Regions from separate parts of the Homo sapiens genome. Here regions 1, 2 and 4 are each linked to region 3. The links come from fine-mapping of genetic effects on gene expression. A gene starts in region 3. Each other region holds a variant in brackets. All regions are shown on one strand. Distances are from middle to middle.

Region 1 (8,109 bases), 92 kb before region 3:
AGTTTATATAACTTTTATTATCCAAATAATACGTTTATTATAGAACAATTAGCAAATACAGGGAAGCAAAATGGAGAAAATCAAAATTATGTGTAATTTTATACCATTTTCTGAATGTGGGGACCTACTTTTTTAGACTGTTTCTATCTGAAGTGTACAAAATACTTTGTAACCTGCAGTTTGCATAAGTATTTATACTTCTTGCAACATAATGTTAAATATTCTCTCTGTGGATGGATGTAGCATCACTTAACAAACCAATCCCCTACTGTTGGGTTATCTAGGCTAGTTATTTTGTATTTCTGACTGTTATAAATGTTTTTGCAGTAAACTTTAGTAGTGATTAGGGTTAGGGGGGTGTGTGTGTGTGTAATATAAAACACATAAAGTGGCTTATGTAAGGTAAAAGAGGCTTATTTCTCTTCCACATAAAGGAAGTACAGAGCTTGGTCCAGGATTTAAATGGTACTTAACAGTGTCAGGAAATCAGATTCCATTTATCTTGCTGCTCTGCCTTGCAGAGCACGTATTCCCAACACCATATCATGGTTAGAGGTGGTTGCTGGAAGGCTAGCCATTAAAGTACTATTCTACCCAGCAGGAAGGAGGGACATATTGGGGGAGTGGTGGTGGGTGTGCTGTCAGCCTTTAAGAGCACTTCCAAGTCCAATTAGCAGAACTCACAGGATGTTGTAGATTCCACTTCTGCTTATGTCCGTTAGTCATATGGCCACTTTTAGCTGAAAAGGAAGCTGGGGAATATAGTCTTCATCTCAGTACAGTTACATACGTACCAGAGACCCTCCACTGTAACTGACTTTGAGATGATTGTTAGCGTTCGTGCTTCATTATTTTCTTAAGATGAACTTCTAAACTTGGAATTGTGGAGTCAGTGGATGATAACTCAGAAGGAATCTTTTCCAGGTGAGAGAAAAGACTTTTGCCCAAAGCTGCTCCTTGGAGTGTTTTGTGGTTTCTTTAGCATACCAGTGCATGATGAAGATAAGAATGGGAGACATTCTTTTATCTCGCTGGAAGGTGCCATCCATCCGATCTATCCAGAGAGCATCTGCTGACCCTGTTGGAGGTGCACAGGTGCAGGGTCGGTAGAGGCACCTCTTACTGGGGCTTTGCCAGTGAATGTTTGAAATTTGAGTATAAAAGAGATCCTAACAGTACATTCCTTATACCGTGCAATATCTCATGGTGTGTAGGGCCAGGGATATTGGTGGTGCTGTGTTCTAAGACTGGAAGCTACTTTTCAGCTGGTCCTGTCTGACTTGTAGGTAGATTTGGATCTTCAAATTTGGCACACAAAAATCTTTTTATCTTTTTTTCAACAAAACATTGGTCTTTATGCCTCTTATTCATGACTAGAGGTCTTTAGTGTCTGTCTCTTTCTCATACATATGTATAGGCCTCACTGAGAAAATTTTTTAAAAGTAGTGATTATTTGATTAAACATTAGACTGAATAGATTAATTTGTTCATAAACATAATGAATATTATTATTTTTCTCTGCAGTATACTGTGTCCATTTTAATGTACTGTCACTTTTCTCTTAATTCTTATCTTTCCACTGTTGAGGATGACAGCTTTGGTTCTACAAATAAAATTTATCAGATTGTTGAATCAAGAATCAGGAAGGATGACCATTCCTTCCATATGGTAATTTTAGTTATTCGCAGTCAGCCTAAAATATTTTTTACTCACTGTGGAAGCACACAACCCGAAACCAAGTGGGGCAAGTGAGAAAAGAGTTTGATCACATACCTTTGGTCAATTTTCATCACAGAAAACTTCAGAAATATAGAAAACTTCTTAAAAATTTTCTTTTCCATGCATGTCAATGGTTTGAGAGGAGAGTGGTACGAAATAGGGTCCCAGGCAAAGGGAGGTGGCTGAAATGTCTTTAGAACACGAGGCTCTGTTTCCCGAGGCATACTGTGCACATTTAAACCTACTCTTCCTTACTCTTGGCACTGAACCACCTACTGGAGCCAGAGTCTATTTGCATTTATTTTAGCCTATGTCATAACATGTTAAAACAAAAACCTGGAGTCACTTTTCTTTGCAATTCAAGGAATGCAGTACAAATTTGCTCAAATGAAGCTGCTTTCTTTATTCCTTTTGGATTAAAATCATAGGAGGTGGCATGCTGTGTGGCAGATAACATCAGTTAGCGAGGAAGACTCAGCAAAAGGAAGGAAAGTCTTAATGCGAAGGAGGCAGAGTTGGTACTAGGATTGGAAGAGTATGTATATCTAGGCCTATTTATCGTATCAGGCTTAAAGACATGCAGAGGCAACCACAGACATAAGGGCTTTGGTGTTTTTAGTCATTTCCTTAGAATGGGTTAGTTATTTTTCTAAGGAACAATGTGCGGAACATTAGAAATGAATTGTGACTAATACAGCTTTTAGCAGAAAATAAAATGGAAGAGTAGGTCTGCAGTGATAGAATGAACAGTGCTGAGTGTTAATAGAACATAAACAGTAATAGGATAAAGACTATGGCTTTGGAAAAGACTAATTATATGGCATGCACTCAGGATACAAATTATAAAGTCAGCCCTATGGTATTACTGTAGTGTAGAATTGGAAATCTTACCATTTCATATAAAGCTGTCTTATAAAATATGTACAAATATTGTATTTCAAATAATAGCTAAGCTCTTTAGAATACCTGAGATTAAAAAGATGTTTTTAAGTTACTCCGTATTTTGCTACACAAAAATTCCTTAAATCTGGGCAATTCAAAAAGAAAAAGAGAATAAAAACAAACTTTCTGCTTTATGTATTTGGTTCATAATAGATATTCAATAAAATGGGATGAGGACCTGCACCTTTGAGGTTGATTGGATGAAATGTGGAAAGAGGGATAATGATGGCTTTTTAAAACATATTTGAAGATTTGAAATGTTTCATGTGGAGCAGACACTAGAATTTTTCTGTATAAGCTCAATGAGGTAGTACCAGAACCAGTGGGTGTCAACTCCAGTAAAATAGATTTTTGACTCAGCATAGTGACTTTCTAGCATTCAGAGCAATTCAAATTTTGGATTAGGCTAGTTTAAGAATAAACTTATTAGAAAACTGTAACAGAACAATAAGAAATAAATTTTTTAAAAATTTACCACTTATAACAGCCTCAGGAAACATCTGATACATAGGAATAAATTTAACAAAAGATGTGCAAGATCTCTACCTGAAAATGACAAAATATTAATGAGAGATATTAAAGAAGAGCCAAAGAAATTGAGGGATTTAGCTTCTTCATGGATTGGAAGACTCAATATTGTAAAGAAGTCATTTCTTAACCAAATTTATCTATTGGAAATTTGTCTAGTAGAAATAAGCCCTTTACAAAAGAGCCTCTCTATGTGGACAATAAACATAGGGAAAGATTATCATTAATCATGGAATGCATTTGTAACCATAATGTGATACCACTATACACCCACTAAACGGTTAAAAAGAAAAAGATAGACAATACCAAGCATTGGTGTGGAGGTGAAGCAATTGGAACTGTCATATGCTGTTGGTAGGTATTCTGCAGTTGTTTTGGAAAGCTGACAGGATTTACCAAAGCTTAATGTACACACATGCTGCGACCTCAGAGTTTCACTCTTTGGTATATGTGCAATGGAAACACATACGTACATTCAAGAAATTGTTACCAGGAAAGGGTCGCAGTCCAGACCCCAGGAGAGGATTCTTGGGTCTCGCGCAAGAAAGAATTTGGGGCAAGTCCAGAGAGTGAAGTGAGGATGCAAAAGTGTATTAGGAAAGGAAAGGAATAAAGAATGACTACTCCAAATGGTTGCCCATTTTTGTGGTTATTTCTTGATGATATGCTAAACAGGGGGTGGATTATTTGTGCCTCCCCTTTTTAGACTGTATAGGGTAACTTCCTGATGTTGACATGACAATTGTAAACTGTCCTGGCGCTGGTGAGAGTGTAGCAGTGAGGACGACCAGAGGTCACTTGGTTTTGGTGGGTTTTGTCTGGCTTCTTTACTGCAGTCTGTTTTATCAGCAAGGTCTTTATGACCTGTATCTTGTCCACATCTCCTAGCTCATCCTGTGACTTAGAATGCCTTAACCATCTGGGAATGCAGTTGTCTCAGACCCAGTAGGTATCAGCCTCATTTTACCCAGCTCCTGCTCAAGATGGAGTTGCTCTGGTTCAAACGCCTCTGACAAAATAATCTGTACAAGAATGTTTGTAATAGCACTGTTTGTAATAGCACCAAATTAAAAACAACTCAGATGCTCATTGTTCATGATCTCCAAATAAATTATAGAGTATTCACAGCCACAAAAACCATACAAGAAAGAGAAGGTAACTTCTACTACTCACAACAATGTGGATGAATCTCAGAAACATGCTGTTTAGAGAAAGAAGCCAGATACCCAAGTTTCCATTTTAAATACAATTCAAAAAAGGGTAAATGAATCTATGGTGTTAGTAGTCAAGGAAGTGGTCACCCTTGACAGATGAGGTGCGATTGGAAGGGTGTGCTGGCCACGTTTTGTTTTCAGTCAGGGTGTTGGTTACATGG[G/A]TGTGTTCACTTTGTGAAAATTCAGTGAACTTTACACTTAGTGATTTCTGTGTCTTTCTGTAGATCTTAGAGATATAAAAGCAAGGCTTTGTGATAGAATTGAGGTGTCCTTGTAACTGAGCTGGTGTGTGAGCAGAGAGGAAATGTATGGGAGGTGCCTTTCTTCTGAGGTGCTTTGAATACAGAGTTTTCAGAAAAGGTTTCTGTTCTAAAGGACCATAAGGAGACGACGATTGACAGCTCTAAGTCAAGCGTCCAGAGGACAAAAATCCTTTGCTAGAGAATGGCCGTTTTAGGAAAGCAGCCATAAAACTAGCTTTGGGTTCAGAAGCTCTAACATAAATAGAATATTCAGTAGGGTTTTTTTTTTTCTTTCAAGAGATGGGACCTTGTCTTGTTGCCCAGGCTACAGTAAGAATATTTAGTAGTTTTAATTTTGATCTGAACAAGTAAAAAATTACAAAAACATTTGCATTTCTGCTGTTTTATTTTTATTGCAATAATTTCATATCCCTGTCAAAAAATTGAATTGGCTATTTAAAAAATCAGTATGATTAGTAAATAAGAAGTTAAAAAACCAAACCAAGCCCTGAGACAAAAGGAGAGAGAAAGTATGCCAACTGTGAATACATGGTAAGCACAGGTGTTAGACGTGAGATGCAACTTGGCTGTTACCTTTACAACATCCAAAGCAGAAAGGGGAGCAAATAAACAACTTCCTAGAATAAGACTAACTTTCCTTCCCATTAAAACTTTGAGGCACGTTTCTTATCTGAAGCATTAAAGAGACAACGTTGAACAACATAATGAAGCATGTCTTTAGTAATGAGTGCTGTAGCAAATGATATCAGTTGAATTTACAGGTTGTTTTTTATAGTGACCTTCAGTAAAGACAAAGAAGAGCCTATTCAATAGTATAATGCTGAAAGGAACCAATGCTTTAACCACTCCCACCTCCAGTCTCGTTATCTGGGAGATGCACGGCATTTGGGGCTTTCTTGCTGCTTTCAGAGAGTGATTTCCCATTTGTTTTCATTGACCAGGTGCCCGGGAAGAACCCACCGTCCAGCAGGCACAGCGTCGGTCAGCTGTCTTTCTGTCCTTTAAGTCCCCAATTCCATGTCTGCCCTTGCGCTGGGAGCAGCAAAGCAAACTTCTTCCAACTGTCGCAGGAATCCCTGCCAGTAAAGTTTCCAAATGGAGCACAGACGAGGTATATTTTATTTTCTTTGCTGCCCGACACCAGATACAGGATTACTGGCTTAAGAGGTGTGGAACATTGAGCGTAGGTAGCGTTTAGTCTTTTTTTTTCTGAAAGAGAAGAAATTATTGTGAGAGAAATAACTAATGCATATGGGTTAAATGTTTTGAACCTGTAGCATTTAGATTCTGACTGTGTTTTTTAACTGGGAATTTTGATATTGCTTTTGACAGGTGTCAGAATTTATACAGAGCTTACCTGGGTGTGAAGAACATGGAAAGGTATTTAAAGATGAAGTAAGTATTCCACTAAATTGCAATATGTTACTTAATGGGATCAAAGCACTGAAATGCAGTGGAAGGTGAAATGTGTGGAATTGGCAGAGTCAAAAAGAGATGGGGTGTGTTGAAATTGACAAATTGATGTATACTAACAGGCAGTATGAATCAGTTGTATAAAAATGTCTTTGTATAAGATGAGATGCATAAGAATGTTTGTGAGTACCATTTTATGATACCCCACAGCAGTAACACTAGGCTCCTTATAAAAAGAAAACCCACAGAACTTAATAGCATGCATTTATATAGTTTATAGCACAGAGGAAGCCAAAGAAAGAAAGAAGCAACATTTTCTCTTTTTAATAAAGTGAAATTAGTTTCCATTATTTTATTTTCCAGTGTCATTCTAACAACACCATGATTGACTCCATTTGAGGTTTATAATAAGTAATATTAGCATTATGTCTAAAAAAATCCCTTAAGTCATATACATTCCTCAATAATGTTTATAATAAGATATTTATCACAGTCCACTTTTGGAAGATTATTTTATTAGTTGTTTTCAACTCCCTCTCCAAAACTTCAATATAAGGGGTGATTAAGAATGATATCACTTACAGTGAGCACTAGAATAAAAAGGAATCTGGTTTCTAACTTTTAATTCTGTAAGCGTACAGCAGGAGACCCTTTTCAGTAGAGACCTTTAAAAATAAGCCACTTGCCTGTCATCTCCTCCAAGCAAAGCAGTCAATTACCCCTCTGATTTTGGCTGTGTCTACTCCTGCCAGAAGGCAGAAAGTAGACTGAGTAATCTCAGAAGGTGCTCTCCAACATCTGCTGTCTACAGTTACACGCATACACAACTTGTTTGCCCCTATGTGTAAAGCTCAACTGTTAAGAACAGCACACTTTCCATTTCATTGCAGGAGTATAGACACAGCTAACAATCCAGCCACCAGTTGTCAGTGTTGTTATACTGTTAGGTATAATTTATGCGTTAGATGAAAGCTTGTTAAAATGCACAAGGATCTGATTTCCAACATCCTTTTTCTGATTTATGTTCTTATTGTGCAAAGGTTTTATTTTCTCTCTGTTTGATCTTTAATTGGCAGTTATTCAGATTTTCTTTCCCTAAGTCCTGAGTGTCTTCACTGATACTCTCAATTCATTTTCTGTTTTTTCCTTTTTTTTTTTTTTTTTTTTAAATCGAGATGGAGTCTTGCTCTTCTCTCCTGGGCTAGAGTGCTCACTGCAACCTCCGCCTCCTGGCAGAGGCGATTCTCCTGCCTCAGCCACCTGAGTAGCTGGGATTACAGGTGCCCGCCACCACGCTCGGCTAATTTTTTTTGTATTTTTAGTAGAGACTTGGTTTCACCGTGTTGGCCAGGCTGGTCTCGAACTCCTGACCTCAGGTGATCTGCCCACCTCGGCCTCCCAAAGTGCTGAGATTACAGACGTGAGCCACCGTGCCCAGCCTGAATTCATTCTGTATCGCTGAGCAGACTTAGAGCCACATAGGGAGCTGTTGGTCTGTCTTGGAAAATGTCATGTTGTCATTACCTTTGAAAATAATAAAGCATTTTTGAAAATAAATTTATAATGCATCTCTTTTATAACTTCTGTTTTTTTATTCTGTTGTTATCTAGATAATCCCTATAGGTTTGCTCTATTATTCAGTTTGAGTAAGATTCAAGTTTAAATTCAAAATGAGATGCTATTTTTTGAGTAATTTTTTTTATTCATGGCAGATTGTCTTTGGAGATGTTCCTCAGTTACCAAATATGCTCAAAGCTAGATCCTTTTCTGGAGGAGTGAGATAGTTAATATTCTCTGTCGATATGAATTATTCATTCATTTACTCCTTCATTCATTCATCTTGTGCACATTTGTTAAATTCCGACCATGAGTATGTTACTTTGTGTCATGCTCTTGTGAGAAGGATGATTCGAAAATAATGAAACCTAGTCCTTGTTCTCAAGTGTCTCACAAGGTCAGTGGGTTTGGGTTTTGAGTCCTACAAGTAAACCATAGTACAAATCTAACCGAAGTCTTATAAATCATCTTTA
Region 2 (8,109 bases), 31 kb before region 3:
TTCCTTGACACTGTTTCATTTTCCTGCTTCTCTTCCAATCTCTCTGACAACTTGTTTATTTGCTGATTTATACCTCCTTTACTTTCTGTGAGAATTTGCACATGGCTTGGTTCCTGCCCCCTTAATCCTCTGTATTGATTTTTGCTTTCTTCCTCAGAGAACTCATCCAGCCCCATGGCCTCAGCTCTGAGCTTTATGTTGATGGATTGTAAATCTATCATCAATAATCTGTTCTCCATGCTCCATCTTAGATCTCCAACAACAACTTGTACATTGTTCATCTCATACTCAACAAATCCAAAATAATTCACAATCTTTAAAAAAACCAAAAAAAAAAAAAAACCAAAAAACAAAAACTAGGCTCTCATTTTCTAGGAACTGAATTGTGTTCCTTTCAAATTCTATATGTTGAAGCCCTAACCTCCAACGTGACTGTACTTGGAGACAGACCTTTATGGAAGTAATTTAGTTAAATGAAATCATAAGGTTGGGCCCTGAGATGACGGGATTGGTATTCTTAAAAGATCTGTATGCCATGTGAGGTCAGAGAGAAAATGTAGCCATCTGCAAGTGAAAAAGAGGGTCCTCAACAGAAATGGAAGAGGTCAGTGCCTTGATCTCAGGCTTACGGCCTCTAGAACCACCAAAAAATAAATTTCTATGTTTAGGTCACCAAGTCTATGGTATTTGTTTGGCAGCCTGTGCGGACTAACACAGAATTCCAATTTCCTTGTTTCTTTTACTGTACCCGTTTCTGTTAGCAACTCAAGCTTAACATCGTGATGTCTTTCACCTTCATTTTTCACTCCTAAGTGTCATGAAATTTTCCCTACATTTTATCTCTGTATTTATTTACTTATTTCCATGGTTCATGCTACTACACTAATCCAAGTATTCGCCACTCAAATGTGGACTGCTTCAGTAGTCTCCTAGCAGAGTTCTGCTGGAATGGCTTAATGAGCTCCCACTGGACCAGCTGTCTCAGAAACATTAACCATAAACATTAAACACATTTTAAAAAAATTAACTGAAAACACTGAAATGTGAAAAACAGAATGCAGGTTTTGAAAAGAAGCCTACACTTAGAACAAGAGGAAGACACTGGGCCTTTGATGAGGTTCCCTTTTCATGGCTTTTGGCCTGAAGGCAGGCCTCATGCTGTGCTGCCAAAACTCTAATAGAAAAACCTGTAGTATTTCTGGACTCAAAGACTTGGGGGCAGGATTTCGGGCAACCCATTATGTGGAAAAGGAGAGGAAAACCCCAGAAAAGAATGAGCTAATGAGGGAAAACTCCACAATCTGTGTATAAACTGTTCAAATCTCTGGATGATCCTGAACTACACATGTGCATAACTGGACTAAAGATAAAAGAACTCAACAGATTTTAACTGACACCAGGAGACTGAGTTTTCCACGTGAGTCCAACCAATTTTGCGGTTTCCTAGAACAAAATGTCAACGCTCTTTGGGCGAACACAACAGATTCAAGAGACTCCACACTGTAACATTCATATTTAATCCAAAATTATGTAACGTACAAAAAAAAAACCCAGAAAATGTAATCCATCCTCAAGAGTAAAGATAATCATTAGAATGTGATGCTAAGATGAACCAGATGTCGGCAAGGATTTTAAAGCGGCCATTCTAACAATGTTCAGTGAATTAAAGGCATATAGGCCAGAATGACTGAAATGATAGGAAAATTTAGCAAAGAAATAGAAATTGTTTAAAAGAAACAAATAGAAATTTAGAAGAAAAAAATACAAAATTTGAAATTAAAAATTGTACTAGATAGGATTAATAGCAGAATGGAGATTTAGGAGGAAATAGTCATTGAATTTGAAGACAGATCAACAGAAATGATCCAATCTGAAAAACACTGGGAAAAGAGATTAAAAAAAAATAAGAAAAGTAGCTCATTTTTTCTAATTGCAGCTCCTCACAATTTATCCCCCTATATAGCCATAAACCCTTCTCCTCTGTGATCCATCATCCAATTTTACATAAACACCGATTTAATCATGTCGGTCAGTGGAGGGGCCAGGTAGAGCTGGCCAATGGCTTCCAGGGCTACTTTTGGAACCAAGACATAGTTGAAGGTCCAAGCAAAATAAGGCAATCTTGCTTGACACTATAATCATGTCCAATTTCAAACACTATTTCTGGTACTGAAACACCACTGGGAACCAATGTAGAATTTAACTTCAAATTTAAAAGTCCCATAGTTTAAAGACCAAGTATATAGAAGACCTGCAAGTCCACATTCAATACTTGACCATACTAGATATCTGCCTTTTGCATGATTTCACATTTTCCAACTGTCATATGCATGATAATCTTCCTGTTTGCCGACAATGTAACCCATATATATATTGAGTGACATGGGTGATTCAGGATTCTTCTACCCCCAACAATTAGACACCGTGAGAGTTTACTATGCAGTGAGAGTTTACTATGTCAGTCTCTTTGACCAATTAACATCTTCAGTATGTGGTCTCCCTGAGAGGAGAGTTACTGCTTCCTATTTCTGAGGACAACTGTGAGCCAGGCCCATCCCTTAATTATCATCCCTTTGGGTTCCTGGGGCTCCCCAGGAAGAGGAAAATAACTATGATTTGTTGACATGTTTGGATATAAACATTCGCATTTGGAAGGAAAACTGAGTCTGTTCTCTGTATTTAAACCCCTTTTGGAGCTATTGAGTGTTTGGCAGTTATTTTATCCCCATGAAAGTAGATAATATTGCCTTAGGGAAAAAGTAAGCTCTTGAATTTTCAAACTAGAAAGCTTCAGTATTTCTTTTCGAATTAGAGGAAGCTTAAGAGTTTAAAACTGTTGCTTCCTTCCTTTTTTTTTTTTTTAACTGAGCCGCAGTTTCTCGCTTTGTTGAAATTGGTGCTTCCAATTTCATTGACTTAAATTTAAAGGAATTTTTTCATTCTCTTTTTACTTCTACAAATAAAACAGGTGATAGGATTTTAAAATTCTATGAGAAAAATAAAAGTCAATGGTCTGTAATTTCTTAAAATCCCAAATTTGAATTCTTCATATTTACTAATTAGAAGTTTTTGTACTCTCTTATTATCAACTGCTACACAATGTGAATTCTCAGATCCAGTCCAGACACAAGCCTTACTAAATCTCCAGAATGCACTATGCATGTGTTAGCAGTTTCTTCGCTTACTTTGTTGCCCTCAGTTGCCCTCATTCTTCTAGGTTTATCTCAAGCCTTCTTCTCAGGTAGATTTTACTCACTGCCACACTCCTGCCATGCATGTGGTTCTCCTCATCTGAATCCCCCACCTGGCCTGGTCCAACA[C/A]TGGCCCTGTGAGCACTCAACTACATCTAGTCTCCTTATCTGTCTTGATTTTCCTACGTCCTTGTTGAATGAAATAGTTTGTGACAAAAATATTGTAGAAAGGTTTAGCAATGCTTGAGAAAGATATAAAATATCAAATATAACATTGTATGATTGATAAAGATGGTCTGTAGTTCTATAAACTTGTGTTTTCTTTTCTTTTTTAAGAGACAGGTGTCAGGCCTCTGAGCCCAAGCTAAGCCATCATATTCCCTGTGACCTGCACATACACATCCAGATGGCCGGTTTCTGCCTTAACTGATGACATTCCACCACAAAAGAAGTGAAAATGTCCTGTTCCTGCTTTAACTGATGACATTGTCTTGTGAAATTCCTTCTCCTGGCTCATCCTGGCTCAAAAGCTCCCCCACTGAGTACCTTGTGACCCCCACTCCTGCCCACCAGAGAACAACCCCCCTTTTTCCTTTACCTTCCCAAATCCTATAAAATGGCCCCACCCCATCTCCCTTCGCTGACTCTCTTTTTGGACTCAGCCACCAGCACCCAGGTAAAATAAACAGCCATGTTGCTCACACAAAGCCTGTTTGGTGGTCTCTTCACACGGTCGCGCATGAAATTTGGTGCCGTGACTCGGATCGGGGAACCTCCCTTGGGAGATCAATCCCCTGTCCTCCTGCTCTTTGCTCCGTGAGAAAGATCCACCTACGACCTCAGGTCTTCAGACCAACCAGCCCAAGAAACATCTCACCAATTTCAAATCCAGTAAGTGGCCTCTTTTTACTTACTTCTCCAACCTCCCTCACTATCCCTCAACCTCTTTCTCCTTTCAATCTTGGCGCCACACTTCAATCTCTCCCTTCTTTTAATTTCAATTCCTTTCATTTTCTGGTAGAGACAAAGGAGACACGTTTCATCCGTGGACCCAAAACTCCGGTGCCAGTCACAGACTGGGAAGGCAGCCTTCCCTTGGTGTTTAATCATTGCAGGGACGCCTCTCTGATTATTCACCCACATTTCAGAGGTGTCACACTACACAGGGACACCTGCCTTGGTCCTTCACCTTTAGCAGGAAGTCCCACTTTTCTGGGGGAGGGGCAAGTACCCCAACCCCTTCTCTCCATGTCTCTACCCCTTCTCCGCCTTTCTGGGGGGCAAGAAACCCCCAACCCCTTCTCCTTCACACTTAGCAGCAAGTCCCACTTTTCTGGGGGAGGGGCAAGTACCCCAACCTCATATCTCTGCTCCCCGATCCCTTATTTCTGTGCCCTGACCTCTTACATCTCTGCACCCCAATCCCTTATTTCCGTGCCCTGACCTCTTATCTCTGCGCCCTGATCCCTTATTTCCACGCCCCGACCTCTTATCTCTGTGCCCCAACCCCTTATTTCTGTGCCCTGACCCCTTTCCCGCTTTTCTGGAGGGTAAGAACCCCTGAACCCCTTCCCTCTGTGTCTCTACTCTCCCTTTTCTCTGGGCTTGCCTCCTTCACTATGGGCAACTTTCCACCCTCCATTCCTCCAACTCCCTTAGCCTGTGCTCTCAAGAACTTAAAACCTCTTCAACTCACACCTGACCTAAAACCTAAATGCCTTATTTTCTTCTGCAATGCCGCTTGACCCCAATACAAACTCGACAGTAGTTCCAAATAGCCAGAAAATGGCACTTTCAAGTTTTCCATCCTGCAAGATCTAAATAATTCTTGTTGTAAAATAGGCAAACGGTCTGAGGTGCCTGATGTCCAGGCATTCTTTTACACATCAGTCCCTTCCTAGTCTCTGTGCCCAATGCAACTTGTCCCAAATCTTCCTTCTTTCCCTCCCTCCTGTCCCCTCAGTCCCAACCCCAAGCGTCACTGGGTCTTTCTAATCTTCCTTTTCTCCAGACCCATCTGACCTCTCCCCTCCTCCCCAGGCTGCTTCTCGCCAGGTCGAGCTAGGTCCCAATTCTTCCTCAGCCTCCGCTCCTCCACTCTATAATCTTTTTATCACCACCCCTCCTCACACCCAGTCTGGCTTACAGTTTCATTCTGCGACTAGCCCTCCCCCACCTGCCCAGCAATTTCCTCTTAAAAAGGTGGCTGGAGCTAAAGGTATAGTCAAGGTTAATGCTCCTTTTTCTTTATCCGACCTCTCCCAAATCAGTTAGCATTTAGACTCTTTTTCGTCAAATATAAAAATCCCAGCCCAGTTCATGGCTTGTTCGGTAGCAACCCTGAGACACTTTACAGCCCTAGACCCTAAAAGGTCAAAAGGCTGTCTTATTCTCAATATACATTTTATTACCCAATCTGCTCCTGACATTAAATAAAACTCCAAAAATTAAATTCTGGCCCTCAAACCCTACAACAGGATTTAATTAACCTCACCTTCAAGGTGTACAATAATAGAAAAAAGTTGCAATTCCTTGCCTCCACTGTGAGACAAACCCCAGCCACATCTCCAGCACACAAGAACTTCCAAATGCCTGAACCACAGCGGCCAGGCATTTCTCCAGAACCTCCTCTCCCAGGAGCTTGCTACAAGTGCCAGAAATCTGGCCACTGGGCCAAGGAATGCTCACAGCCCAGAATTCCTCCTAAGCCGCGTCCCATCTGTGCAGGACCCCACTGGAAATTGGACTGTTCAACTCACTTGGCAACCACTCCCAGAGCCCATGGAACTCTGGCCCAAGGCTCTCTGACTGAGTCCTTCCCAGATCTTCTCGGCTTAGCAGCTGAAGACTGACACTGCCTGATCACCTTGGAAGCCTACAGGACCATCACAGATGCTCTAGGTAACTCTCACAGTGGAGGGTAAGTCTGTCCCCTTCTTAATCAATATGGAGGCTACCCACTGCACATTACCTTCTTTTCAAGGGCCTGTTTCCCTTGCCTCCATAACTGTTGTGGGTATTGGCGGCCAGGCTTCTAAACCTCTTAAAACCCCCCAACTCTGGTGCCAACTTAGACAATACTCTTTTAAGCACCCCTTTTTAATTATCCCCACCTGCCCAGTTCCCTTATTAGGCTGAGGCACTTTAACTAAATTATCTGCTTCCCTGACTATTCCTGGACTACAGCCGCATCTCATTGCTGCCCTTCTCCCCAACCCAAAGCCTCCTTCATGTCCTCCTCTTGTATCCCCCTACCTTAACCCACAAGTATAAGATACCTCTAATCCCTCCTTGGTGACCGATTATGCACCCCTTACCATCTCATTAAAACCTAATCACCTTTGCCCTGCTCAATGCCAAGATCCCATCCCACAGCACGCTTTGGGCATTAAAGCCTGTTATCACTCGCCTGCTACAGCATGGTGTTTTAAAGCCTATAAACTCTCCTTACAATTCCCCCATTTTACCTATCCTAGAACAAGACAAGCCTTACAAGTTAGTTCAGGATCTGCGCCTTATCAACCAAATTGTTTTGCCTATCCACCCCATGGTGCCGAACCCATATACTCTCCTATCCTCAATACCTCCCTCTACAACCCATTATTCTGTTCTAGATCTCAAACATGCTTTCTTTACTATTCCTTTGCACCCTTCATCCCAGCCTCTCTTCGCTTTCACTTGGACTGACCCTGACACCCATCAGGCTCAGCAAATTACCTGGGCTGTACTGCTGCAAGGCTTCACAGACATCCCTCATTACTTCAGTCAAGCTCAAATTTCTTCCTCATCTGTTACCTGTCTCAGCGTAATTCTTATAAAAACACACGTGCTCTCCCTGCCGATCATGTCTGACTGATCTCTCAAACCCCAACACCTTCTACATCCTAGGCATGGTTAGATACTTTCGACTTTAGATACCTGGTTTTGCCATCCTAACAAAACCATTATATAAACTCACAAAAAGAAACCTAGCTGACCCCATAGATCCTAAATCCTTTCCCCACTCGTTTTTCTGTTCCTTGAAGACAGCTTTAGAGACTGCCCACAACCGAGCTCTCCCTGACTCATCCCAACCCTTTTCATTACACACAGCTGAAGTGCAGGGCTGTGCAGTCAGAATTTTTACAGGACTGGGATCGCGTCCTGTAGCCTTTTTGTCCAAACAACTTGACCTTACTGTTTTAGGCTGACCATCATGTCTCCGTGCAGTGGCTCCTGCCCCCCTAATACTTTCAGAGGCCTTTAAAATAACAAACTATGCTCAACTCACTCTCTACAGTTCTCATAACTTCCAAAATCTATCTTCTTCCTCATACCTGATTCATATACTTTCTGCTCCCCAGCTCCTTCAGCTGTACTCACTCTTTGTTAAGTCCCACAATTATCATTGTTCCTGGCCCAGACTTCAATCTGGCCTCCCACATTATTCCTGATACCACACCTGACCCTCATGACTGTATCTCTCTGATCCACCTGACGTTCACCCCATTTCCCCACATTTCCTTCTTCCCTGTTTCTCACCCTGATCACACTTAGTTTATTGATGGCAGCTCCACCAGGCCTAATCGCCACACACCAGCAAAGGCAGGCTATGCTATAGTACAAGCCACTAGCCCGCCTCTTAGAACCTCTCATTTCCTTTCCATCGTGGAAATCTATCCTCAAGGAAATAACTTCTCAGTGTTCCATCTGCTATTCTACTACTCCTCAGGGATTATTCAGGCCCCCTCCCTTCCCTACACATCAAGCTTGAGGATTTGCCCCCACCCAGGACTGGCAAATTAGCTTTACTCAACATGCCCCGAGTCAGATAACTAAAATACCTCTTAGTCTAGGTAGACACTTTCACTGGATAGGTAGAGGCCTTTCCTACAGGGTCTGAGAAGGCCACCGCAGTCATTTCTTCCCTTCTGTCAGA
Region 3 (8,109 bases):
TTTATCTAGCAAGACTTATCAGAGTTGTCTGTAATTCACAACACCTCCAATAAATTTGAAGGAAAAAGTGGTGAGCACAGTCATAGTAACTTAAATTTCATATGTTTACATTTTTTTCTTTTTCTATTTTTTTGAGATGGAGTCTCGCTCTGTCATCCAGACTGGAGTGCAGTGGCACTATCTCGGCTCATTGCAACCTCCACCTCCCGGATTCAAGCCATTCTTTTGCCTCAGCCTCCTGAGTAGCTGGGATTACAGACGCGTGCCACCATGCCAGGCTAATTTTTGTATATTTAGTGGAAATGGGGTTTCACCATGTTGGCCAGGTTGGTCTCGAACTGCTGAGCTTGTGATCCACCTGCCTCGGCCCCCCAGAGTGCTGGGATTACAGGTGTGAGCCACTAGCCTGGCCAATTTTTACATTTTCAAAGAAACTAAAGAGCCACTTATCTGGGAGGTTTAGTTAAATTAATGAACAAAAATAGCAATGAGCCAGAGTCCCAGAACTTTGGAACTTTTGAGTCACAAACACCCTAGTGTTTTGGCCTTTGAGTCAAACTTATGGTTTATCCCTGCTTCTGCCTCGTTGACAGCCAAAGCTTATGGTTCAGCAACACAGATTACAGTCCTGCCAGAGATGGTAACTGTGAACTGTGCTATTGAATTTTATGAAAAGCTGGATGTGTGACTGAGAAGTCTTGATAGTTTGAAGATGTCATTTCCCTCAGAATTAATTTATAAATTCCAATTAATATACATACGTGGTTATATGTTTTACTTACTATGAGGCTAGTTTTCATGTGGAAGAATAAATAGGTAAAAAGAACGAAAAATGCTTGACAAAAGGACTTGCACTTCCAGATGTTAAAAAATGTTATGCTATTAACAGCATGGTACTGGAGGAAAAGAGAACAGATATTGAAACAGAATAGAAACTTAGAAACAGAAACATTCATATGGAAGTACTGAAAATATCTTTTTTTTTTTTTGACAGTCTCGCTCTGTTGCCCAGGCTGGAGTGCAGTGGCACGATCTCGGCTCACTGCAAGCTCCGCCTCCCGGGTTCATGCCATTCTCCTGCCTCAACCTCCCGAGTAGCTGGGACTACGGGTGCCCACCACCACGCCCAGCTAATTTTTTTGTGTTTTTAGTAGAGACGGGGTTTCACTGTGTTAGCCAGGATGGTCTCGATCTCCTGACCTTGTGATCTGCCCACCTTGGCCTCCCAAAGTGCTGGGATTACAGGCATGAGCCACCACGCCCAGCCAGTGAAAAGATCTTTAAAATTGGTGACAAAGAAGGGATTAGTCAATATATTTTGTTGGGATAATGCCTCATAACACCTACACAATAAATTCCTCAGATAAGTTAAATATGTAAATATGAAAAATTAAAAAGAGTTTAAAATAATCTAAGATTACATAATAAAAATAAAATATTGATAGATTTGACTAAAAAGGAAAAACGCATGTGTACACATATATATCACAGTGGACCCTTGAACGACACAGGGGTTGGGACGCTGACTCTGCTATGCAGTTGAAAATTTGCAAGTAACTTTTGACTACCCCCAAACTTAACTACTAATAGCCTACTATTGATCAGAATCTTAACTGATAACATAGACAATTAACACATATTTTGTATGTTATATATATTATATACAGTACTGTTACAATAAAATGAGTTAGAGGAAAGAAAATGTTATTAAGCAAATAACAAGGAAGAGAAAACATTTACTATTTATTACATGGAAGTGGATCATCATAAAGATCTTCATACTCGTCGTCTTGCAGTGAGTAGGCTGAGGAGGAGGAGGAGGAAGAGGAGAGTTGGTCTTGCTGTCTCAGGGGTGGCAGAGGCAGAAGAAAATCTGCATGTAAGTGGACCTGAGAGGTTCCAACACATGTTGTTCAAGGGTCAACTCTATAATCCATAAAACCAACTAAAAAATTAATACACCAATAGAAAAAAATAGGAATAGGTAACTCTTGAACAAAATTTTAAACCAGTATCTGAAAAATCTACATTATTTGTAATAAAAATAATTAAATACCATCTTCATTTATTCCATTGGAAAAGGTGAAAATTAGCAAGAATGCAAGGTCAGTTGTTCTCTTACACACTGCTAAGGGGAGTATAAAGTGGCACAACTTGCCCTGTCATATTATTCCCATTTTATAATTGAAAGTCCTGGAGTTTACAGGGTAACTCGCCTAAGGTTCCTTTGCTTGTAAAGGTAAAAGTGATTTGAATCCAATCTATCCAACTTTAAAGGGTACTAATGCAAGCCAAAAACATTAAAAATATTTCTACATTCTGACCCCAAAATAGCATTTCTAAGAATGTGCCTAAAGACATTAACAGAAATGAACACAAAGATGTGTGCCATAGCAATGGTCCGAATAGCAAATAAATTGGACAGATAAAATTTCCAGCAATAGGAATTGGCCAATGAATTACAGTAATTTATATTTAAAATAAAATACTATGTAGTAATCAAAAATTGTATCTAGACAAATAACTATGTAGAGAGAAACAGTCATGGATATGGTTAACTGCAAATAAATTTAAAATAGTATGATTCAGATTTGTGGAAAGAATAAAATAAAAGTAGAATGAAATGCTTGGTTACACAAAGGCTGGGAAAGCATATACTAGAAGGCAGAAGTGGCAATCTCTGTTTGGAGGAATTAATGTTTTTTGTTTGTAATCTGCCACTCTTAAATTTTTCTCAATGAAAGAATTTTATCTTAATATCAGAAAAGTTAGAGTTTTATAGAGAAAAGGTAAAAAGTGATATTTACGGATTATTGCTGGAGAGGCTTTTGGTCCATCTCTTCCAGAAGAGAAGATCAAAGGAGAGAGCACCCCTCCTCCCCAGGCAAATCCGATCAGTGGATGTGGTTCTGGTTCCTTTGTTTTATCTGAAAAATGGAAGATATCACCTACAAATCTGGAATCTTGGTTTCTCTTGAAAAATCAAAAGTTCTGGTGATACTGGGTTCATATTTCTGAATGGCAGCAACTGAGCAGTGGCTGCCCCATTGAAAGACAGCAAGACTGGGAGCCTCACAGTACACAGGAAGCATAAGGTAAGTTTGAAACAGGGTGGATCTCAGACAGCTAACGTTTGCACCTCTCAAAGGAAGAAGATTCTGACAAGTGTGACAAATACCCATGTATGTACATACATGTTTACCATAATATATCTTTGGAACATTTAATTCTTCCTTAGTTACCTTTTTTAAGCTCCTAGAAGAAATAACACTAACTAGAAAAAAAATTTCCTATATCAATCTTAAGGCAGATATAATAATAATGTATTAGAATTTAGACATTGAATTCAAAGTCAAGGACTCAAAGCTTTGCATCTCAGAAGGTTCTAGTGTCTTGAGGCTTCATTTTCTTTGTAGCTACATCATTGAACTAAAATGCACAAACCTTTATTTAGCAGACATTGGCTGAATGTAATTCTCGTTACATAGCTCAGTGTGTACGTGATAGTGCAGGTGATAGCTGAACATTTTATAGCTCTGAGTAGTGGCAAGAACTTACATTATTAAAATATTACAACTATTTTTTTGGAGTTACTCATTTGTTAGAACACATGAAAGGTGACTTCTGTATCCACCTATATTGCTCAGCTGGTAGAGTCAAGCTGGGCTCTCTTGATCTGTTAACACTAAGTGCTGGTCTGACTTTGTAGGCCTCTTCAGGAAGAAGGGGATGCAAGGTAGTGGATCTTCTTAATGCAGTGTGACTCAAAGTGAAACTTGGAAACACCCTTGCAGGGCGTGCGATGGGTGTGACTCGCTTCTTCAGTACCCTGCAGCTCAAACCCCTAGAGGGAGCATGCAGACGGGCAGGTCATGGGGAGCATGGGCTCCTACCCCATGGCAGCACCTAGGGTTGAGTGTTTACAGCTCCAGAAGCCCCAGTGGGAGTGTGTTACAGTGCAGTCTTTCAGCTTAGCCATCCGCAGGTGGCTTGTGTTAATCAGCTCAATTAGATCCTCTGCCTTATCGCAAGGACAGAGGGCTTTCTGTATCCCAAGGTTCTTGCCTTAATGTACCAGAAAAATTGAATCACATGTAGGCTTGGAGAATGGGTGCACAGTTTTATTGACTGGTGGAAGTAGCTCTCAGCAGATGGATGGGATCCACAAGGGGAATGGAATGGGAAGGCGGTCTTCCCCTGGAGTCAGGCCGCTCAGTGGCCTGACTCTCCTCCAACCACCCCCAGGCAAATTCTACGTGGTCCACATCATACTGCTGTTGATGTCCTGCCAGTCTGTCAGTGTATTCTGCCAGTGTGTTCCTCTTGATGTCCAGCCGCTTGTGTCTGTGCCCGCTAGGGTCTCAGGGTTTTTATAGGCAGAGGATGGGGGTGTGGCGGGCCAGAGTGCTTTTGGAAAATGCAACATTTGGGCGTGAAAACAGGAGTGCCTGTTCTCACTTACGTCCATGGGTACAGGCCTGAGGGTGGAGCCCTAGCCAGGGACCCCATTCTTCTCTACCCAGCACTTCCCTGCCCGCCTCCCGTATCAAAAGCAAAGCACAGATGGGAGGTGTGGAGACACAAAAAGGCATAGGACCCTGTGTTTCTCATGAGTGACAAATGCTCATGCTTCTGCCAGCCCTAGGTTCATGTGAGGACGGGCCAGAATGTTCAAACTTTTGTTTATGCAAAAGCACTCTATTTATTTATTATTATTATTATTATTATTATTATTATTATTATTATTTTTGAGATGGAGTCTCCCTTTGTCACCCAGGCTGGAGTGTAATGGCACGATCTCAGCTCACTGCAACTTCCACCTCCTGGGTTTAAGCGATTCTCCTGCCTCAGCCTCCTGAGTATCTGGGACTACAGGCACGTGCCACCACGCCCAGCTAAGTTTTTGTATTTTTAGTAGAGATGGGGTTTCACTGTGTTAGCCAGGATGATCTCGATCTCCTGACCTCATGAACCGCCTGCCTCGGCCTCCTAAAGTGCTGAGATTACAGGCATGAGTCACCACGCCCAGCCCGAAGCACTCTTTTTAGAGTTGGCCCAAAAGGTAAAATTCATACCAATTGGTAGGCTATAGTCCATCATTAAATATGAGTCTGTGTGTCTGAATTTGTGTGTATGTGTGTGTGTTAGAGAGAGATAAAGAGAGACAGACAGAGACAGAGAGCAGTACTGAGCAAGAGAGTGAGTGAGCATGGGGAAGAAAGTAAGGAGGAGAGGAAAAGGTTATGTGAATGATTAACAAGTAAAAAATAATGTTACTGAAACACCAGGGGTTCAGTTTAGGTCCTGCTATTTGCTGCACAGAAAGCCAACGACTGAGACAACAAGTATTGCCAAGGAAGAAGGCTTTAATCAGGTGCTGCAGTCCAGGAAATGGGAGCTCAGTCTCAAATCCATCTTCCTGATCAACTAAAATTAGAGGTTTATATAGCGGGGAAGAAATGTTAAATATGTATGGGAAAACAAGAATGTGGAAGGAGTAAGGGAGCAATTACAATGAATGAGAGGCTGGTATCTCATTGTCTGGATCTGGTGAGTTTCAAGCTTTAAAACCAGAAGGATTAATTTCTATATTTAAGAAAAACTGTCTATGGGACTACTGGATCAGTTTCAGTAAGATAGGCATATTAGAAATAAAGACTGTAAGGATTATAATAGCACATAGCTTTCCTCTTTAGATTGTTCCAAGGTAAACTTATTTTTAAAAATCCTTACATTCCAATCTTAACTGCTGCCTACTCACTTCTACCATTCTTTGATTACATATGGGAACAAATGTGGCACACCAATATAAAGGTGAGAGTAGTTGGAAGAAGAGGAAAAATATTTATTCATATATTAGGTCATCCAAAAAGCTTAAGATATGAGAAAATTCAGTATTTCTATAACCAGGCCAAAAACTAACTTGTCATTTCAAACTCCTTGGCATTTGGAAGCTTGAAAAATGCTTGCCTGGGCACCTATTCCTGGTAAAGTGCTAAGGAGAGACGCCTAAGGAAATTGAGGGGTCAGCCTGATGTTGGCTTAATCCTGGCTCCATTGTCTTCTGATCACATCACCCTTCTTATCTAATTGATGTGATCACTTGTTGAGTTATCTCATCCAGTTATTCTCTTCCTGGTACAGTCTTCTATCCACTGTTGCAGAAGTATCTGCAGTAATTCAGGACAGCGCCGCTTTTCCCAGGAAGGGGTATTAGTGAAGCTGTCATTCTACCTTTCTGGAGAGCCTGATGGGCAGACTGGAGCTTGAGGTGTTATTGAAGGGTGCAGAGGTTGCTGCTGATCCCCTGTGTTTCTCTCTGTTGAACTCAGAATTCAGAATTTTATTTTTAAGAATGATTTTCCAACTTACCTAATATAAGAACAAGGGGTGTACTTCATGAAAATATTGATTCCTAAGCCCTTTCTTAGAAGATTCTGATTCAGGTGGGTAGAGTGAGTTCTTATAGTATTTCTAATCATTACCATTGATTCTTATGATCAGCCAAGTTTGAGGAGCAATTGAAAGATTTATTATGATTTATTTCCAATGTACAGAGCCCTATAGGTCAAAGTTAGCACACCATCCCCAAATGTCATTATGCACAAATTATACCTTTGAGAAATGTGTATAACACTTTATAAAAATAATTATGAGGGGCCGGGCACCATGGCTCACGCCTGTAATCCCAGCACTTTGGGAGGCCAAGGCGGGTGCATCACCTGAGGTCAGGAGTTCAAGACCAGCCTGGTCAACATGGTGAAACCCCGTCTCTACTAAAAATAAGCTGGGCATGGTGGCAGGCGCCTGTAATCCCAGCTACTGTCAGTGTAGCTTTTCTGTAGGCAGGAGAATCGCTTGAACCTGGGAAGCGGAGGTTGCAGTGAGCCGAGATCATGCCATTGCACTCCAGCCTGGGCGATAAGAGCGAAACTCTGTCTCAAAAAAAAAAATTATTTACATCACTGAAATTAAATTAGTAACATTGTGTTTACAAGGATTTTTCATAAAGCTAAGGATGTACAATAAATACAGTAATCTGATATTTTTTACATTTAAATAAATTGTGCAAAAATATACATAATGTAAAGTTTACCGTCTTAACCCTTTTTGAGGGTACAATTGAGTGACAATAAGTATATTCACATTATTGTGCAACCATCACTATTATCCATTTCCAGAACATTTTCATCATCCCCAAAATGAAACTCTGTACCCATGGAACAATAACTCCCATATTCACCCTGCAGCCCTAGTCCCTGATGACCATTATTTTGCTTTCTATCTCCATGAATTTGACTATTTTAGGTATGCCATATAAGTGGAATCATACAATATTTGTTTTTTTGTATCTGGATTATTTCTCTCAGTATAATGTTTTCAAGGTTCATTCATGTAGCTTGTGTGAGAATCGCCTTCATTTTTAAGGCTGAGTAATATTCCATTTGATGTATATACCATATTTTGTTTATCCATTCACTTGACAGTGGACATTTGGGCTTTTTCAATCTTTTGACTATTTTGAATAACGCTGATACGAACACAGGGGTGTGCAAATAGCTGCTCAAGTCTCTGCTTTAGTGGTCTGCTTTTGATAGTTCAAAAAATCAGAGGAATCTTGCCAGGCACGGTGGCTCATGCCTGTAATCCCAGAACTTTGAGAGGCCAAGGTGGGTGGATTGCTTGAGGCCAGGAGTTCAAGGCCAGTCTGGCCAACATGGTGAAACCTCGTCTCTACCAGAAATACAAACATTAGCCGGGCATGGTGGCATGTGCCTATAGTCCCAGCTACTTGAGAGGCTGAGGCAGGAGAATCGCTTGAACCTGGTAGGCAGAGGTTGCAGTGAGCCAAGATTGTGCCACCACACTCCAGCCTGTGCGACAAAAGCAAAACTCCATCTCAAAAAAAAAAAAAAGAAAAGAAAAATCAAAGGAATCATTCGACGTCCTCTGATTTCCTGCTGCAGCATTAGCAGACACGGAGACCTATGTGGATCTTCCACACCTGGTAAAATCCTCTCGTTTCCTAAATGGAAACGAGAGAATTTCAGAAAAGCCAAGTGATTTGCCCAAGGATGCACAGCTAATTGAATAAGGATACCCTTTTTA
Region 4 (8,109 bases), 73 kb before region 3:
AAGCAAGCCCTGACAAATACTTAACCATAGTATCCTAAATTTAGGTAAAGGAGAGTGCTTTAGAAACTAAGAGTAGACAGAGGTAAACAGTGAAAAACGATATATGGCTGGGCACGGTGGCTCATGATTATAATCCCAGCATTTTGGGAGGCCAGGGCAGGAGGATCACTTGAGCCCAGGAGTTTGAGACCAGCCTGGGCAACACAGAAAAACCCTGTCTCTACAAAACACAAAAATTAGCTGGGCATGGCAACATACGTGTATAGTCTCAGCTACTCAGGAGGCTGAGGTGGGAAGATTGCCTTAGCCCGGGGAGATCGAGACTGCAGTGAACCGAGACTGTGCCACTGCACTCCAGCCTGGGCAACGTAGTGAGACCCTGTCTCAAAAGAAAAGAAAGAAAAAGAAACAATGTATGTGCAGATTTGACTACAAGTTCAAAGCAAAACCAGTTTACTTTATGGAAGTCCCTTTCCTCAAACTACCCCATCCTACCACTGCCTGAACTCTTCCCCCTCAGAGGATTCCACCACCACTCCCCCTCCTGTTTTTGACAGTGGCATTATCAGATTATTAGCCACCCACACTCCAGTGAATTAATTTAGTCATTGCTTTTCCTAAAACTATAAAGAACAATCACATACTACCCACTGGGCCTCATTGTTCCTTGAATGTTTTGGTAGATCATAAATTGCCTAGAGATTAGGTCTGAAAGTTAAGTTGTCAGAAAGCTGGAATGCATAAGGCATAGTGGCTTTGTTACCAGGCAACCCACAGTGGACCACTAATCTAGATTAATACCGTTAGAAAACCGTTTTCTCAGCAGGAAGATGTGAAGGGAAGGATGAAGGAGGTGAATACGCCACTGTTCTGGGCTCATAGCCTAAGAATTTCTTTTCTGACTTTTTATGTTTTGAAATAATTTCAAGTTTGCATTAAAGTTGCAGAAATAGTAAACAGAACTTACAAGTGCCCTCTGTGCAGCTTCCCCCAATTTCTGATCCAGTTGAAAATGAGCTGTAGATACAATGCCCCACTATTCCTTAATACCTCATTGTGTATTTCCTAAGTACAAGAGCACCCAAATTCAGGAAAATCTACTACACATTCCATTCAAATTTGCCAGTTGTTCCAGTCATATTCTTAACAGGCCCAGGATCTAATCCAGGATCCCATATGAGATTTAGATACCACGCCTCTCTAGTCTCCAGTCTGAAACAACTTGTTAGTTTCCTTGACGGTTTCTGAAAAGTGGAGGCCAGTTACTTTGTAGAACATTTCTCCTTGGAAGTTTTATGATATTTCAAGATTTATGCATTTCTGGCAAGAATATTAGCATTTCTCACTGTGTCCGGAAGCACAAAATGGTAACTGGTCCCAGTATTGGAGATAATTTTTATTACTTGATTAGAAATGGAATTCACCAGGTTTTTCCACGTAAAATTAATATATGTTGTATTTTATGAGGAGATACCTTGAGTTTATGTCAATATCTTGTTCCTTGTATAACTTTGATCCATCAGATTCCACATCCATTAATGATTCTTGCCTGAATCAAGTACTACTACAATAGTTGCCAAATGGTGACTTTTCTAATTCCTTTCTTTCTACATGGATTAGTTGGCTTTCTATTTTAAGATAGTTTCTTTTCTTCCACATATATTTACTTACTTATTTCTATCACTACAGGTTAATCAATTCCCATTTTACCCAAACGGTTACAAATCTGATCCTTTCATTATTTATAGAATTGCTCGAATTGCCCAGACTTGGCCAGTAGGAGTCGCTTCAAACAGACTGCCGTGCCCTCTTGGCATGTCCTTATTAGTGTGCAAGCACTTCCTTCATTTCTGGCATTACACAGTATTTCAGACTCGTCTTGACTCGTCTTGGTTTGTTGTTGTTGTTTTCATTTTTGTTTTGCCCCCAACCCTGTAGTGAGCTATTTCTCCACGAACCCTAATTCCTTTTCATGAAGAATGGCTTTAAAAACTAAGATTTCAGGCCAGGCACTGTGGCTCATGCCTATAATCCTAGCACTTTGGGAGGCCAGGGCAGAAGGATCATTTGAGCCCAGGAGTTTGAGACCAGCCTGAGCAACATGGCGAAATCTGTCTCTACAAAAAATACAAAAATTTGCCAGGTATGGTGGCACATGCCTGTAGTCCCAGATACTCAGGAGGCTGAGGTAGAAGGATCACCTGAGCCCTGGGAGGCCAAGGCTGCAGTGAGCCATGATCATGACACTCCAGCCTGGACAACAGAGAGACTTTCTCAAAAAAAACCCAACCAAAAAAAACCAAGATTTCAGCCCTGGTGTGCAACTTGCTACGGAGATGTTATTGCTTTAGACTTTCTCATAGAAGAAATCTAGGAAATGTTTGAATTTACATAAACAAAGGCACCCGTTGATCCAGAAACACCAATAACTATATATGTAAATATTAAATAGCCATACATAAAGACTAAAACCATGAATTCACATTGATACTTTCAATTCCAAACCAATACCACAGGGCTTTTCCTAACCTTCCCCTTCCCAAGCTTCTAACTCTCTTCAACAGTGAGATTCCTGGCTCCCATTATATCTCAGTGTATTTACTTATGAGCACTAACATCTGTGTAGCCAAGCTCCCAGCTGTGAATGGTCAGCCACAGGAAAGCCTCCAACACTTATACACTGCTAGTGGGAATGTAAATTAGTTCAGCCACTGTGGAAAGCCGTTTGGAGATTTCTCAAAGAACTTAAAACAGAGCTACCATTTGACCCAACAATCCCATTACTGGGTATATACCCAAAGGAATATAAAGAAAGACGCATGCACACATATATTCATTGCAGCACTATTCACAATAGCAATAACATGGAATCCACCTAGATGCCCATCAATAGCAGACTGGATAAAGAAAATGTACATGTACACCATGGAATACTACATAGCCATAAAAAAGAATGAAATCATGTCCTTTGCAGCAACATAGGTGTAGCTGGAGGCCATTGTTCTAAGCAAATTAATGCAGGACTAGAAAACCAGATACTGCATGTTCTTTCTTATAAGTGGGAGCTAACCACTGAGTACACATGGACACAAAGAAGGGAACAATAGACCCCGGAGTCCACTTGAGATTAGAGGGTGGGTGGAAGGTGAGGATCGAAAAACTACCTATCGGGTATTATGCCCGCTACCTGGGTGATGAAATAACCTGTACACCAAACCCCCACGACATGCAATCTACTTATATAACAAACCTGCACGACGTATCCCCTGCTGAACCTAAAAGTTGGAACAAAAAGAAAGCCCCCCTTTTCACAACCCCAGATTATGTCCTACAAATTAATCATCTTAATCCTTTTTCTTTCTGTTACTCAGACTGGATAATTTCTATTAATCTATCTGCAGATTCACAGCTCCTTTCTTTTCATTTTCCAATATGCTTTTAAGCCTACGCACATGGTGATGTTTTCATTTCAGATAACTGTTCTTTTCAGCTCTGAATTTCAATTTGGTTCATGTGTGTGTGTGTGCGCGCGTGTGTGTGTGCGTGTATTTCATTTCTCTGCTGAGATTCCCTATGGTGATGATACATGGAATTTACTGGTCTTATCCTGTTCCCCACCGTCCTGTCCTGAAGCAGCTGGCTTGCCAGACTGGTGGAGTGGCCTGTTGAAGACTCAGTTACAGCACCAGCTAGGTGGCAATACCTTGTGGGGCTGGGACAAGGTTCTCCCAGGCTGTATAAGCTCTGAATCAGCATCCAGCATACAGTGCAGTTTCTTCCATAGCCAGAATTCATGGGTCCAGGAACCAAGAGTTGGAAATGGGAATGGCGCCGCTCACTGTAACCTCTAGTGATCCACTAGTGGGGAGTCTGGATTAAATTATGTTCCTTTAAAGGGTGTTAAATTTTGTTCTGATAGGCAGATAAATTATGGTGGATCTTCTGGTCCTGTCAGACTTGATTTTATCATTTCTTTCGGCAATTCTGTTTTGTTGTTTGTCCTTAGTCCTAGCTAAGGTCCTGGCTCAAACTTAGGCATGGTTCTCACTCATGAGGCATTGTTTTCTGGAGTCTCAGATGAATGCTGAGGTGTTCTGCAGGGTCTCTACACACTGGGCCAGAATTCTTTTTTTTTTTTTTTTGAGACAGAATCTCACTCCATCGCCCAGGCTGGAGTCCAGTGGCACAATCTCGGCTCACTATAGCCTCTGCCTTCCAGGTTCAAGCCATTCTCCTGCCTCAGCCTCCTGAGTAGCTGGGATTACAGGTGTGTGCCACCACACCCGGCTAATTTTTGTATTTTTAGTAGAGACAGGGTTTCACCATGTTGGCCAGGCTGGTCTCGAACTCCCGACCTCAAGTGATCTGCCTGCCTCAGCCTCCCAAAGTGTTGGGATTACAGGCGTGAGCCACCACACCTAGCCTGAATTCTTATTAGCAACACTGTGTGAAGTCTCGGCTCTCAGCCAAGGATCCCCAGGGGATCCGTGTGTAGACTTCGGCCCAGCCCACTTTCCTCCAGTGCCTGTCCTACAAAGGCCAGCTGCTTCATCATTCCTCAACTTTAATCTCTTCCTGTGCAGCTCCATGAGACCTCCGCATGCTGCTTGCCTCCCACCATTCTGTACAGTGAGCTAGAAAGTAACCCATGCACAAAACTGAGGCACATCTTATGTCTTTCCGTTACCAAGGATCAGGGTCCTGCATTGCCTGTACCTTAATGCCTGAGTGCAGTTGCCTCATACATATTTTTTTTTTCCAGCTTTATCCATGTTAACAGTGGGAAGACTAGACCAGTACCAGTTACTCCATTTGGGCCAAAACCAAACTCAAATTCTTTATTTTTTAAATTTATTTATTTATTTATTTTTAACACGGAGTTTCACTCTTGTTGCCCAGACTGGAGTGCAGTGGCGCAATCTCGGCTCACCGCACCCTCCGTCTCCCAGGTTCAAGCGATTCTCCTGCCTCAGCCTCCTTAGTAGCTGGGATTACAGGCATGTGCCACCACGCCCGGCTAATTTTGTATTTTTAGTAGAGACAGTGTTTCTCCACGTTGGTCAGCCTTGTCTCGAAC[T/C]CCTGACCTCAGGTGATCTGCCCGCCTCGGCCTCCCAAAGTGCTGGGATTACAGGCATGAGCCACCATGCCTGGCCGATTTTTTTAATTTTTTGAGACTTTATTAGCTGGCGATTCTCACGTACTTCACTTAAAGAGATGATGATTGAAATTGTTTCTCAGGAAGGCAGAAACTATGGCATCTGAAAGGATTTTTTGGAAAATTTGGGGAAGGGTTTCAGTTTGTGTTTGGTATTTTCCTTCTCAACTCCCTCCTACTTGTCTTGTGCAACATCCAGTAGATCCCAGTAACACATTCCTAGTTGATAATATTTTAGATAATCTAATAAAGTAAATGGTTACATTCTGAATTTTTAAATGCCTTGTTGAAAGAAAGTTTTTTGAGGAAGGAGGTTAATGAGCATGGAGGTGATGGGGGGTCAGTGTTAACAGCCAGGACCACCGCCCACCCCGGCTGCTGCTGTTCTGCCACCCTGTCTCCACCAGCTCCCTAAGCACTCAGTGTTTTCACAATGGCAGGAGCAACAGGCGGTGGGGGTGGTTTGGTGCAGGGACAACTGTCCTCTTACGGGATCATTTGTTAACTAGGTATTTGCGAGGTCAAACTTGCTTTTATTTTAGGAGGCACACAAGAGTTTTATAAATTGGAAATCCCAGCTGCCTAGGGCTGAGTCAGGGAGGTACTTCCTGGAAAAACCGAAAATGATTCGTTCTTTTGTCTAAAACAATCAGGTCGGGCACGGTGGCTCACAGCTGTAATCCCAGCACTTTGGGAGGCTGAGGCAGGTGGATCACCTGAGCTCAGGAGTTCAAGACCAGCCTGACCAACATGGTGAAACCCCATCTCTACTAAAAATATAAAAATTAGCCAGGCGTGGTGGCGTGCATCCGTAGTCCCAGCTACTTGGGAGGCTGAGGCAGGAAAATCACTTGAACCTGGGAGGCAGAGGCTGCAGTGAGCCAAGATTGTGCCACTGCACTCCAGCCTGGGCGACAAAGTAAGACTCTGTCTCAATAAATAAATAAATAAATAAATAAAACAATCAACAGGCAACTCTATTCAATAAGTACAGTCATTACAAAAACCATACTCCATATTTTGGATATAAAGGGTGAAATACTTGAGGAATGGTGCGGAAGATACACCTATGCCACAGCAGGAGGCCTGGACAAAAGCACAGGGGACAGCATCAGGTCTGAAATCTCTCTGCTCCTCACATAAGCTATGACAGACCTCCACCTTACTGTCACCAATGGTTCTTTGAAAAGCTGCTTAACATAGTCCATTTATATTCATCACTAAGCCTTTGTAGGCCACACTCCAATGAAGACCCCTAAGGCTACGACATTAGTGATCACAACAGCCTTACCAACCTCCACTAATTCACTCAGCATTCACAAAATCAAGATTACATTGCTGTGTCACACGTGGTGCTCTGCTAGGCACTTTGGGAACTGTTAATATTAACACGTGCTCCCTACATGTAAGGAGTGTATAGACCGTAAGTTTGACAGGCTTTTGCTTTAAAACTGTATTTTGCAGATGTGTCCATTTGGCATACTTTTCTAACAGCCAGAGATGACTGGCTATTACAGTTCCTTACAACCTGAAGATTAAGGGGAAACAAGCGAAAGCCACAGTATGGTTGCTGAGAGGATTAGGTAGATTAATCCGTGGAAAGCACTGAGAACATGCTGTTACAGAGAAGCATTCAGATATTTGCTACTTATGTTTCTATTAAAATAATACAGGCAATTCTTATTTCCCTTTGCTCAGAAGAAAAATATGTAGATGTTTCATGTTTAATTTGGTTAATTGAATACATAGAATTTCTCCATGAAATATGTTCTCGGGTAAAACCTTTGATGATCTTTCATTATATACCACCACCAAAAATTACACTAAAATTGTGAAAGAACCTTGAATGGCCACTCTAAGTGAACTAAATGGAAGGGTATTTGATTGATTTACCCATTAAATTTCATATATATATATATATATTTATTTATTTATTTATTTTTTAAAATTTGAGACAGGGTCTCACTGTGTCACCAAGCTGCAGTACAGTGGCTCAGTCATGGCTCACTGCAGCCTTGACCTCCCCAGGTTTAGGTGATCCTCGTGCCTTAGCCTCCCAGAATAGTTGGGACTACAGGCACGCACCACTAAGCTGGGGTAATTTTTGTACTTTTAGTAGAGATGGGGTTTTACCAGGTTGCTGAGGCGGGTCTTGAACTCCTGGGCTCAAGCAATCCACCCACCTCAGCCTCCCAAAGTGCTGGGATTACAGGCATGAGCCACCATGCCTGGCCCTAAATTTCATATATATTTAAGGACACTTATGAAATTATTTGGGATCATAAAGGAAACGTATTTTTACTAAGGATGCATAATAACAGTTCCTTAATAAACTACCTTGATTACATAAAAGCATGAAAGGGAATAATGATTCACACTGTCAAAATACCCCTAAGTGATGATCCGCCACCCTCCACAATATGTCCAATGACAGAGAACTCTTTAGTTCTGAAGGCAGCTGGTGCCTATTATCTGAATATGCTACTGAAATTCTTTTTTTTTTTTTTTAATTTTTCCTTTTTCATGGTTAGGAAAGAGGGTGGGTGGGGAGGGTCTGCTTCCTGAAATTCCTATCAAATGGCTCTAGTTGCAGCCTTTGGGCCTCACACCCCACTGAGATTCACCCCCACTGTCTTGCTATGTTGTCCTGTTACCACTCCAAGAGGAAAGAGGGAAAAATCCATTTGGACACTGTAATCCCAGCACTTTGAGAGGCTAAGGCAGGCAGATCACCTGAGGTCAGGAGTTCAAGACCAACCTGGTCAAGATGGTGAAACCCCATCTCTACTGAAAATACAAAAACTAGTTGGGCATGGTGGCACACACTTGTAGTCCCAGCTACTCAGGAGGCTGAGGCAGGAGATTCGCTTGAACCTGGGAGGCAGAGGTTGCAGTGAGCTGAGATCGCAGGCCATTGCACTCCAGCCTGGGCGACAGAGCAAGACTCTGTCTGA

The links. PIP is the estimated chance that this variant, and not a neighbour inherited with it, causes the effect.
Region 1: its variant is fine-mapped to the expression of SAMD3 in whole blood (TOPMed, PIP above 0.99). The same link has a PIP of 0.9 or more in blood mononuclear cells.
Region 2: its variant is fine-mapped to the expression of SAMD3 in whole blood (TOPMed, PIP above 0.99).
Region 4: its variant is fine-mapped to the expression of SAMD3 in whole blood (TOPMed, PIP above 0.99).

What each region holds. Positions count from the first base shown.
Region 1 is chr6:130,127,845-130,135,953 of GRCh38, forward strand. It overlaps L3MBTL3 (L3MBTL histone methyl-lysine binding protein 3), which reads left to right. Exons shown (of 23, transcript NM_032438.4): 21 at 5,608-5,777; 22 at 5,999-6,061. Among named protein-coding and RNA genes, the nearest start is that of SAMD3, 91 kb to the right of the region's middle. The variant G/A (reference allele first, on the strand shown) is at 4,565.
Region 2 is chr6:130,188,777-130,196,885 of GRCh38, forward strand. All of the region lies in intron 5 of SAMD3 (sterile alpha motif domain containing 3), which reads right to left. Among named protein-coding and RNA genes, the nearest start is that of SAMD3, 30 kb to the right of the region's middle. RefSeq lists an enhancer at 5,886-6,386. The variant C/A (reference allele first, on the strand shown) is at 3,321.
Region 3 is chr6:130,219,887-130,227,995 of GRCh38, forward strand. It overlaps SAMD3 (sterile alpha motif domain containing 3), which reads right to left and starts at 3,065. Exons shown (of 12, transcript NM_001017373.4): 1 at 2,808-3,065. RefSeq lists an enhancer at 3,672-3,781.
Region 4 is chr6:130,146,588-130,154,696 of GRCh38, forward strand. The region is part of intron 9 of SAMD3 (sterile alpha motif domain containing 3); the gene reads right to left. Among named protein-coding and RNA genes, the nearest start is that of SAMD3, 72 kb to the right of the region's middle. RefSeq lists an enhancer at 6,058-6,678. The variant T/C (reference allele first, on the strand shown) is at 5,078.